3 linked regions of the Homo sapiens genome follow. The protein of the gene in region 3 purifies or fractionates together with the protein of the main gene of each other region. This does not show direct contact. Each region holds a gene or a part of one and is shown on either strand. Other genes may lie near its edges. The genes, in order: DCBLD1, CELSR1 and PCDH12.

Region 1 (3,655 bases), on a different chromosome or scaffold from region 3:
CTGATAGAGCAAACTTAAGTTACTTTTATTATTGTTAAATACAACTCTGTACACATTACACCTTTAACACCAAAGCAGCTCAATATCAGTCAGAGGAATGAAAACGCCATCTGAAAATTTTCATTTTTCTAGCCCAACAAAACCCAACAGACGCACCCTAAGGGTCAGCACGAAACCAGCTGCACAATTTTGTAAACAGTATGACAGGTTGTCTCTAGGATCCTACTGGATCACACACACACATGCAAGTGTACACACACACCGATACACACGCACACTCTGGACCAGCAGGCTCCCTTCTTCCAGTGCCTTGTGACAGCCCGACGCTCAGTACCACAGCAGGCTTCTTTCACATTGTGTTCACAAAAGGGCAGTCATGGCCGTCTGGTTGAGGGGTGTGAGGCAGTCTCTGGGGGCAGAATAGCTGTCACTCGTCCCGGGATGCGTTGGGGGCTTCTGAGAGTCAGGGTGCCCGCTTTCGGTGGCGAGGGCGCTGACAGCTTTGGGCCGGTCGTAGCCCCTGTCCGCAGGCTGTGCGCTGTGTGGCCTTTGATAGTCTCCGTCCTGGGCGCCCACACCCGCTACGGGGGAGAAGCCGCCCGAGGAGAGGGAGTGTTTGTGGCCGGGCTGGGGCCCTGGGACGCGGTAGCCGCTCTGCGCAGAGAACGTGTGGGCGCGCAGCACGTGCCGCTCCACGATGGGCGTGGCGTACTCGGGCTCCGGGGGCGCCAGGGGCAGCGCGTACTCGTGGCGGCCGGCCCGCTGCGGGCAGTCATAGTGGCCGCCGGCATCGGTGCTCACCCCTGCCTCCTCGGCATCCGTGTCCATGGGCCGGAAGGTGGAGCCCTTCCTCGTGACTGTCCCGGTGCCAATCATGAGGGGCTGCTGGTAATCTGAAACCACAAGACAGATGGCAGCTAGCGGGCACCACACACGGGCCGGCCTGTCAGTGGCAGACGGGGATACTCTGCTTCAGGTCGTGGTGACTGACTTTCCCCCCGGGTGCCCTCAGGTGTCCCAGGCACTGCGGAAAACCCTGATGTGAAAGCCACAGAAGCCACCCGCAGGCAGTACACAACCGCACCGCCTGCTCAGGAAGCTTCGCAGGGTCTTCTCAGAGATGGGGGCGACGACGACGTCCTGGGGCATGGGGACATACTTCAGGGAGGAAGTGGCTCTGAAACTGGCTCTGGAGAAGCTATGGAGGTGGAAGTCACACAGTGTGGAAATGGAGAAAAAAACAGCCTCGAAAATAGAGTTGATATGGCCAGAGTATGAGGGACACAGAGTAGTTTGTTTAATAGGATATGAGGACCAAAGCAACAGGTCAGGGCCTAGTGGTGACAGTGAGGATGATGCCAGGAGCTCCCATTTATAGAGCTCCTACTCTTTGCCAGGCGCTATTCCAATAGCAAGATGTTAATAATCTTCAAAAAAATCCCGAGGTAGGAACTGTTACTCCATTTTACAAATGGGAAACCAAGGCAGAGAGAGACTAACTTTTCCTAGGTCACACAATGGGGCGATGGAGTAGGATTCGAACGCACATCCTGAGTATATGCTGTTAGCCACGCGTTAGAGCATGGAAAAGCATTGATTGTCTTGCTAGGAAGTCTGGTTTAATTCTATGGGAAACGAAAGACTGGCACTTTCAGAGGTAACTGTGGAGGTTGACCCAAGAGGAAAAGATCAAAAAGTGAGAGGTAAAAAAGCAAAGAGAAATGCACATAGAAGTCACAAACTAGGAAAGAGGAAAAGTGACCCTTTGGGACAGGAATCAGGAATTTGTTACCAATGAGAGGTGGGGTGTGAGGAAAGCCGGGAGGCAAGGACTCTTTGAGGCTGGGATGTGCAGTCGAGAAGCCATTAGACAAGGAATGCACAGAGCATCTGTGGTGAGGGTTAGGAACAATGGATTCGATTGTGGTTGCTGAGGAACGGGTGACATCTGCAGGTGGAGGTGTCCAGCAGGCTGCTGAGAATTATGGACTGGGGACTGAGAGGGAAGTCTGGGTGTGAGAAGCAGCATGGACAAACATGCAGGGAAGGGCACTGCTGGAAGTTGGGGAGGGTGTGGGACTGTTTAGGGGAGAGACTGTGGTGAGTGGGGGTGAGACAGAACCCGGGTCATTGCACATTTAAGGAGCCTGAGGATCATTCAGGGAGGAGGGAGGAGAGACTGAATTAGAAGCTGAAGGAGAATGAAAGGCATAAGACAACAGAAATTAGGTTCTCCCTTCATGTCACTTCCAAGGAACAAGAGGATGGATTTTGGTTGCAGAGGATGCTCTCCTTGTCCACAAAGTGACTCAACCAACCCTTAGGCTGACAACTCCCAGTCACTGATGTGCACAGGCGTCACCTGGGAGCTTCTAGTTCTATGGCCTCCCTTTCTAACAAGCCCCCAGGTGATGCCTATACTGCAGGTCCTCAGGCTGCACGTGAGGAGGGAGAAGCCAGAGCGCAGTGCTACTCAGAGCATGCCCCACAGAGTCCTATGTATCTGAGAGCTGTTTTTAGCAGTGCCATAGAGACAGGTGCAGAAATTGAGACTAAGTGTCAAGAAACTACTCTTAGTTACTCTTTATTACTCTTAATTTTATGTCTGTTGAATCTAATAATAAAAAATTAGAGCTTTGTATTTTGTATCTTTAAAATTTCCTTATTACTAGTATTTTATATTGCATTTTACAGTGTATTCATTCATGATGGAGTAGAAATTTTAAAAAAAGAAACAAAAAGCATTTCCCCATAGATGGTTTGGGAAGCTCGACTCTTGATGTGGCTTGTCAGGGACACTGAGGCCCTTCTCATACTGAGAGAGTTCCTTTATTTCCTATCTCACCTTCCTCAGGGCAGGAACTGTATTTAATTCCTCCTTTCAGCCCCTCTGTACCAGTGCCTTAATCAAAGCTTTGGTAACAAAAATAGATTCAGGGCTTCCAGATACAAGTAGTACATCAGGGCTATCACTATGGATGTCACTATATCCCCTGCAGGTGAAAAGACTGGCTGAATAGGGCTTTTAAGTAATATCTCAGTGTCAGTTTGTAATTCTGTGCAGAATGCAGAAAAAACACATTTCAGATTTACTGGACCCTATCTAAATAGAAAAGGATTTTGCCTTATTTCTCTCCTGTCTCCCTCCCCCACAAGCAGCACCTCCAATCTAATAGCACAGTCCTAGAAATATGACACTTACCTGCCATATCACTTGTGATGAGATCTAACTTTTGTGTCATCTCCTTCTCATTATCATAGCTGATGGTAAACTCAGCTGACTGATGTCTGGCAAAGGGATATTTAATCTGCTTCCAACAGTCTGGAATAAAGGTAACATAAACCAAATGAATATGTCAGAAATGTAATGCGCGTCCTCCAGAACATGTTCCTTGATGAGTCAGAGGTCAGGCTGCCTCCTGACAGCTGACAGTGATCAATGTCCTCCTCAGGTGTGTGTGCTAAGAACAGCATGCCAAGGTCATTAACCACAACAGCAAACACTACTCTAACCATGCTTTCCGCTGTGCCTTTAAAAGGTATTTTGCCCTCATCAGGTCCCAGATTCTCCCTTTGTGAGATCATCTGGGTATGGTCTCCGACAATCTGCACTGGCATGGCATCTGTGAGGCAGAGGAGACACTGCAGCTGGTGT
Region 2 (3,655 bases), on a different chromosome or scaffold from region 3:
TGAGCTCAGCCCCCTTGCTCATCGGATGGTCCATCTCCACCCAGCCGCAGAAGTCAGGACCACACTGGCTCTCCCGGCTTTCGCACACAGCAGGTGCTCAATAAACAAACCAACACTCCTTATTTCTGAGGCAGTGTTTCTCAAGGTATGAGCAAGCCACTGTCTCCAGACTTATCAGAGCTCTGAAATGGTTAACTCATTGCCAAAAGCACTGAACTCTCCTGGGAAGGTTTGACACTGGCAGAATCCTGCTTGGCCACTGAAGCAATTTAAGATGGTCCGACCCAGGCTGGGAGCGGTGGCTCACGCCTGTAATCCCAGCATTTTGGGAGGCTGAGGCGGGCGGATAGCCTGAGGTCAGGAGTTGGAGACCAGCCTGGCCAGCATGGTGAAACCCCATCTCTACAAAAATACAAAAATTAGCCAGGCATGATGGCGGGTACCTATAATCCCAGCTACTTGGGAAGCTGAGGCAGCTGAGGCAGGAGAATCACTTGAACCCGGGAGGCAGAGGTTGCAGTGAGCCAAATCATGCCATTGCACTCCAGCCTGGGAGACAGAGCAAGACTGTCTCAAAAAAAAAAAAAAAAAGGTCCGATCCTTCCCTACCCTGTGAGTTCCAGAAAAGCACGCTGCCATGCATCCAGACAATGCCTGAACAGTAGCCCGCCCCTACTTCCTTCTTTGCAATCGTCTGTTTAAAAGCCACTGCAATATCCTGTATTTAACTAGGCAAACACTTAGGGAAGCTTTATCAAGCCTAGACGACTTTATACCATCCACTCTCCACCAAAGTCAACGGCGAGAAGGTTACTCAATCCTGTTATTTCACCGAGTTTCAGTATTTTCTGACATGCCTGAATGACTCATCCGCCAATCATTCTCACCCACAAACGCCACTTTCCTACATCCATGGGTCTGCAACACACACAGCAGGAGAGGCAGGGACATCGCCTTTCTCCCAAGCTCCGCATTCTGCAACAAGAGGCCTACAGCCCTGCACCCACGGACACACACTCAAAGTGAATTAAAAATGACGTGGCCCGGCCACAGATGACTGGAGAAAAGAAATGTGGTACATATATACCATGGTGTACTATTCCACTATAAAAAAGAATGAGGCCAGACGCGGTGGCTCACGCCTGTAATCCCAGCACTTTGGGAGGCTGAGGCGGGCGGATCACGAGGTCAGGAGATCGAGGCCATCCTGGTTAACACGGTGAAACCCTGTCTCTACTAAAAATACAAAAAAATCAGCCGGGCGTGGTGGCGGGCGCCTGTAGTCCCAGCTACTCGGGAGGCTGAGGCAGGAGAACGGCGTGAACCCGGGAGGCGGAGCTTGCAGTGAGCTGAGATCGCGCCACTGCACTCCAGCCTGGGCGACAGAGCGAGACTCTGTCTCAAAATAAAATAAAATAAAATAAAATAAAATAAAAATAAAAAAGAATGAGATCCTGGGCCGGGCACAGTGGCTCACGCCTATAATCCCACCACTTTGGGAGGCCAAGGCAGGTGGATCACGAGGTCAGGAGATCGACACCATCTTGGCTAACACGGTGAAACCCCGTCTCTACTAAAAATACAAAAAAATTAGCTGGGTGTGGTGGCGGGTACCTGTAGTCCCAGCTACTCAGGAGGCTGAGGCAGGAGAATGGTGTGAACCCAGGAGGCGGAGCTTGCAGTGAGCCGAGATGGTGCCACTGCACTCCAGCCTGGGCAGCAGAGTGAGACTCCATTTCAAAAAAAAAAAAGAATGAGATCCTGTCATTTGCAACAACCTGGATGGAACTGGAGGTCATTATGTTAAGTGAAATAAGCCAGGCACAGAAAAACAAATATCCCACGTTCACACTTGCTTGTGAGATCTAAAAATCAAAGCAATTGAACTCATGGGGACAGAGAATAGAAGAATGGTTACCAGAAGCTGGGAAGGGGGTAGCAGGAGGAAGGTGGATGGTCAATGGGTACAAAAAAATAGCTAAAAAAATGAATAAGGCCAGGCACAGTGGCTCACGCCTGTAATCCCAGCCCTTTGGGAGGCCAAGGCAGGCAGATCACTTGAGGTCAGGAGTTCGAGACCAGCCTGGCCAACATGGTGAAACCTTGTCTCTAAGAAACATACAAAAATTAGCTGGGTGTGGTGGCGTGCACCTGTAATCCAATGTACTCAGGAGGCTGAGGTAGGATAATCACTTGAACCCAGGAGGTAGAGGTTGCAGTGAGCCGAGATCATGTCACTGCACTCTAGGCTGGGAGATACAGTGAGACTCCATCTCAAAAAAAAAAAAAGAATAAGACCTAGTATTTAGCCCAACAGTGAGACTACAGTCAATAATAATTTAATTGTACATTCAAAAATAACTAAAAGAGTATAATTGGACTGTTTATAACACAAAGGATAAATGCTTGAGGGGATGGAGACCCCATTCTCCATGATGTGATCATTACACATTGCATGCCTGTGCCAGAATATCTCATGTACCTCATAAATACATACATCTAACCAGGCACAGTGGCTCATGCCTATAATTTCAGCACTTTGGGAGGCCAAGGCAGATGGATCACTTGAGCTCAGAGGTTGGAGACCAGACTGAATAACATAGTGAGACCTTGTCTCTATTACAAATAATTAAAAAAAAAATCAGCCAGGTGTGGTGGTGCAATGAGCTGAGATCAAGGCTGACATGAATCGTGATCATGCCACTGCACTCCAGCTGGGGCAAGAGAGCAAGACCCTGTCTCATACACACACACACACATATATATATACACACACATAAATTTGTGTATATAATTTATATATAATTCATTATAACATATATTATATATTATATATAATTCATTATATATAAATTGTTTTTCAAAAATAAAAATAAAACAAAGAATGTCAATGTTTCTGAAAGACCACTGTCCAGAAAGAAGGCAGAGCACATTCAAGGCTTGAGTTGTCCACTGGGTCATCAGCCACGTTGCCCTGAAAAACGCAAACACAGCCTTTATACAAGCTCATAATAAAAAGTTCCTATCACAGAATTTAAAATCTCATTCAAAAACTATCGCAAAAAATGAACATCTTGTATCGCTGGATGTCATTCAAAACTGGCAGCTATTTGAATTTCACTATCTTCTGACTTCAAAAAATTTTCAAAAAATGTTTTCTCCTTGGTGGGCTACATAAAACCACCAACAACTATCTAGTCACAGTCACAGTGTTCAACCCCACGCCAGGCTAAATGAACTGCCCCCACCACGTGGGCCTTCCCAGGCCCTGCCCTCCGATGCGCTCCTCCCTCCTGGGCTCCTCTGCTGAAAGCTGGCAGCCCTTCCTGGAATGGCTCCCACTAAACGTAGTCGATGGCTGGCCTGTTGCATACAGCACCTCCAGGCTGGTCATATTGCATCAAAGGCTTTAGGGCATGGCTGTAAATCCTGGGGAAGCAACAACACTCCATTGAAAACAGTGGATGAGTTTGAAACCACCGCTTCCCCGCATTGTTCCTTAATAAAACCTCCAGATAATTCAAGGGCTGATCTTTTTGTTTGGTCTGTTTTCTATCCGGTGCTTTGCTGTCTGGAACCATAGATCTTATAGTCAATAGTGATTTACTTATTTGGAGCATTAAATCCTAGTCGAATGGTCTGAGATTTCTGCGCA
Region 3 (2,716 bases):
CGGAGGCGGCCTCCACGGGCATGCTGGAGCGCTGTTCCAGCAGCATCTCCAGCAGTGAGCTCATCTCCGAGACAAAGGTGCTGGCCAGCCTCGTGCCTGTTGGGCTCAGCTCTGGTGCCTCTGCCTTGCCGAACGTCTGGAAGGTCCTTGGCTCCTCCGTGGCTGCAGCATCCGGGGAGATCACATTGTCACGGTAGTTGGTGGTGAGGGGCAAAGAGAGTCTCGCCATCCAGGCCGGGTCAGGGGCGCTCAGCCGGTCCAGGGCCAGACCTGTGGGGGAAGGAGGGGACACAGTGAGGGCCAGGCTCCGGGAAGGGCCAGGCGGGTGAGGGTGGGGCAATGAGCAGGGCAAGGGCAGTGGACAAAGGAGGGAAGGGAAATGGCAGGGGACAGACAGAGTGGCCAGACGGGGACAGGAAGGAAGAGGCCCTGACAGGGAAGCTCCCTGGGTAGGAAAGCAGTCGACTGACACACCCGGGCGAACCAAGTGGGGAAGCAGCAGGAGGAGGAGAAGGCCTAGAAGTAGAAATTTGCCGATTTCTGAAGAATTTCCCAATCTGGGCGTGTGTTTCCAGTCTCAGTGTCTTCTATATTTCATCCAGGATTTTTACCCCTCAGGGCGCCTTCTCCCCTCAGGGCTCCACTAGCTGAGGATGGAGGGAAAATCCCTTTTCTTTGCCAAGGCTGGAGTTCCTGACTTAGCGCTGCCTTTTTTGGTTCCCATCCATAATAATAGGGACCACATATTAGGTACTTACGTGATGAGCAATTTACATAATTATTTCATTTAACTTCACAAACCTTTGAGGTCAAGAGTATTATTCCCATTTGATGGATGAGGAAACTGAAGCTGAAAGAAGTTAAGTCACACATCTGCTAGGCAACCAAACCTCAATTTGATGCCAGGTCTGATGACTTTGAAGCCTATGATGGCACCACCCTACCCTCTCTCTGAAGAGCTGGCCCTTCCTCCCCCTGGATACTCCAGGTGCCCAGCTGGGGCCTCTGGAATTCCCAGGCTACCTAAGGTCTGCACTGTTACCACCTGGCCCCAGATCCTCAAATCCTCCTCAACATCATCTCTCAAGCTGCTGGAACCCTGGCCTAGAGTCAGGCTGGGGAGGGGCTGCCTGTCCAAGGGCTGTCCCAGGAGAGGGACTGGGGTAGTGGCGGTGGCAAGTCAGCCTGGTGGCTGGGAATTCAAAAAACTGGCCCCTACATTTGCAATGCCACAGTCACCCTTCTTTTCCCATCCCTTTAACAGAAAATCCTGTTTCAAGAAACCAGTCCCAGGCCTGATGGTAGAGACCAAGCCAGAGGAAAGAAATTATAAGTCTTGGAGTTAAGAAACAGTGTCTTAAAAAAATTAAAAAAAAAAAAAAAAGCACAACATCTACTTAACATTTATCTAATGTTTGCCTAAGGTGAGTTACTTTAAAATCTGCGCACAGAATGAAAGACTGGAAGGAGATATGTCAAAATGTTAACTGAAATTACCTCTGGGCAGAAGCAATCCATTCTCTTTTTGTTTATCTATGTTTTTCTATATTAACCAAATATTACTTATGTAATTTGAACAAGTTATTCCGAAGTATGTGTAGTCATTTATTGTACTGATAAATGAATCTCTGCCCTGCATTCTGGACTGTGCAGCTTGTGAGACACTGTTGGGCTCCTGCCCTACTGGATCCTTGGGTTTAGCCCCATGCCTGGGACTTAGTGAATGTTTGTTGAATGATTGAATGAACATAAATATTAACCTTCAACATTTGGGAAATGCAAACCTTAGTTCCTTGAGACTCTGAGGCTATAAGGTTGGATGGAACTCTTGGTGTTATAGAATCAGGCCTTTCCTTTTACATGGGTCAGAGAGCTTCAGAAGGAGTGAAGCTTGGAATGAGAAAATCACTGGGGCGTATGAGAACAGCTGAAAAGTGATGCTGAATTCACCCAGCATCACCCACCAGTTCTAGCTGCAGGTGGGCACTGGGCCAACCTGGGTTTGATTTCCCAGCTTTGCAGCTTAGGGGCAGTGTGTGTGACCTTGGGAAAATGGCTTAACCTCTCTAAGCTCCCGTTTCCTCTTAGGAAGTGGTGAGACAGTAGTACGTATCTTGTGGAGTTGTTGTGAGGTTCAGTGAGTTCATGCAACCAGGAAAACATTATCATGGTCGCATTCTCAAGTGGGGCAATCTGAATCCGAAGCAGCAAATCTGAAGCAATCTGAAGCAGATCTGAAGCAGCAAGATCCCAGTCTCCCCATGGCAGTCCAGCCTGTGAGCAGCAAAGGCTTTTCTGCCCCTCCTCTTTCCTTACCCCCAACTCCTTACAGTGCCCCTGTGTTCAGTACCCTTTGTGCTGTGGGCAAGCAGGACCGTGTGGGAACTGACCCCACAGGTTCCAGCCAGAGCTGACCAATAGAGATAGAATCCAAAGCTATATCCCCCAGCCATACATAGCCAGTGAGCACTTGAAATGTGGCTGGTATGGCAGAACTGAATATTTTATTTTATTTAATTTTAATTCACTTAAATTTAAATAGCCACTTGTCGCTAGTGACTACCTCATTGAACAACACAGCTCTAAAATTTACAGCCACACTGCCTGTGTTAATAACCATCCACGAGCTGCACAACCTTGGGCAAATTATGAAACACCCCTGACCCTCACATTTTTCCTTTATGAAATGGGGATAATGAATAGCCCCTATCTCATA

Evidence for each region.
Region 1: the proteins of PCDH12 (region 3) and DCBLD1 purify together in Homo sapiens (affinity purification with mass spectrometry; 2 studies listed by BioGRID and IntAct, with this or other methods). This does not show direct contact.
Region 2: the proteins of PCDH12 (region 3) and CELSR1 purify together in Homo sapiens (affinity purification with mass spectrometry; 2 studies listed by BioGRID and IntAct, with this or other methods). This does not show direct contact.

What each region holds. Positions count from the first base shown.
Region 1 is NC_000006.12:117,545,145-117,548,799, reverse strand, and holds part of DCBLD1 (discoidin, CUB and LCCL domain-containing protein 1 isoform 1 precursor), read right to left. Parts: intron 3,323-3,655; coding exon 3,203-3,322; intron 1,199-3,202; coding exon of another isoform or gene 1,161-1,198; exon of another isoform or gene 894-1,160; coding exon 361-893; 3' UTR 1-360.
Region 2 is NC_000022.11:46,527,527-46,531,181, forward strand, and holds part of CELSR1 (cadherin EGF LAG seven-pass G-type receptor 1 isoform 1 precursor), read right to left. Parts: intron 1-3,655. UniProt on the Homo sapiens protein: Receptor that may have an important role in cell/cell signaling during nervous system formation.
Region 3 is NC_000005.10:141,945,536-141,948,251, forward strand, and holds part of PCDH12 (protocadherin-12 precursor), read right to left. Parts: intron 271-2,716; coding exon 1-270. UniProt on the Homo sapiens protein: Cellular adhesion molecule that may play an important role in cell-cell interactions at interendothelial junctions. Acts as a regulator of cell migration, probably via increasing cell-cell adhesion.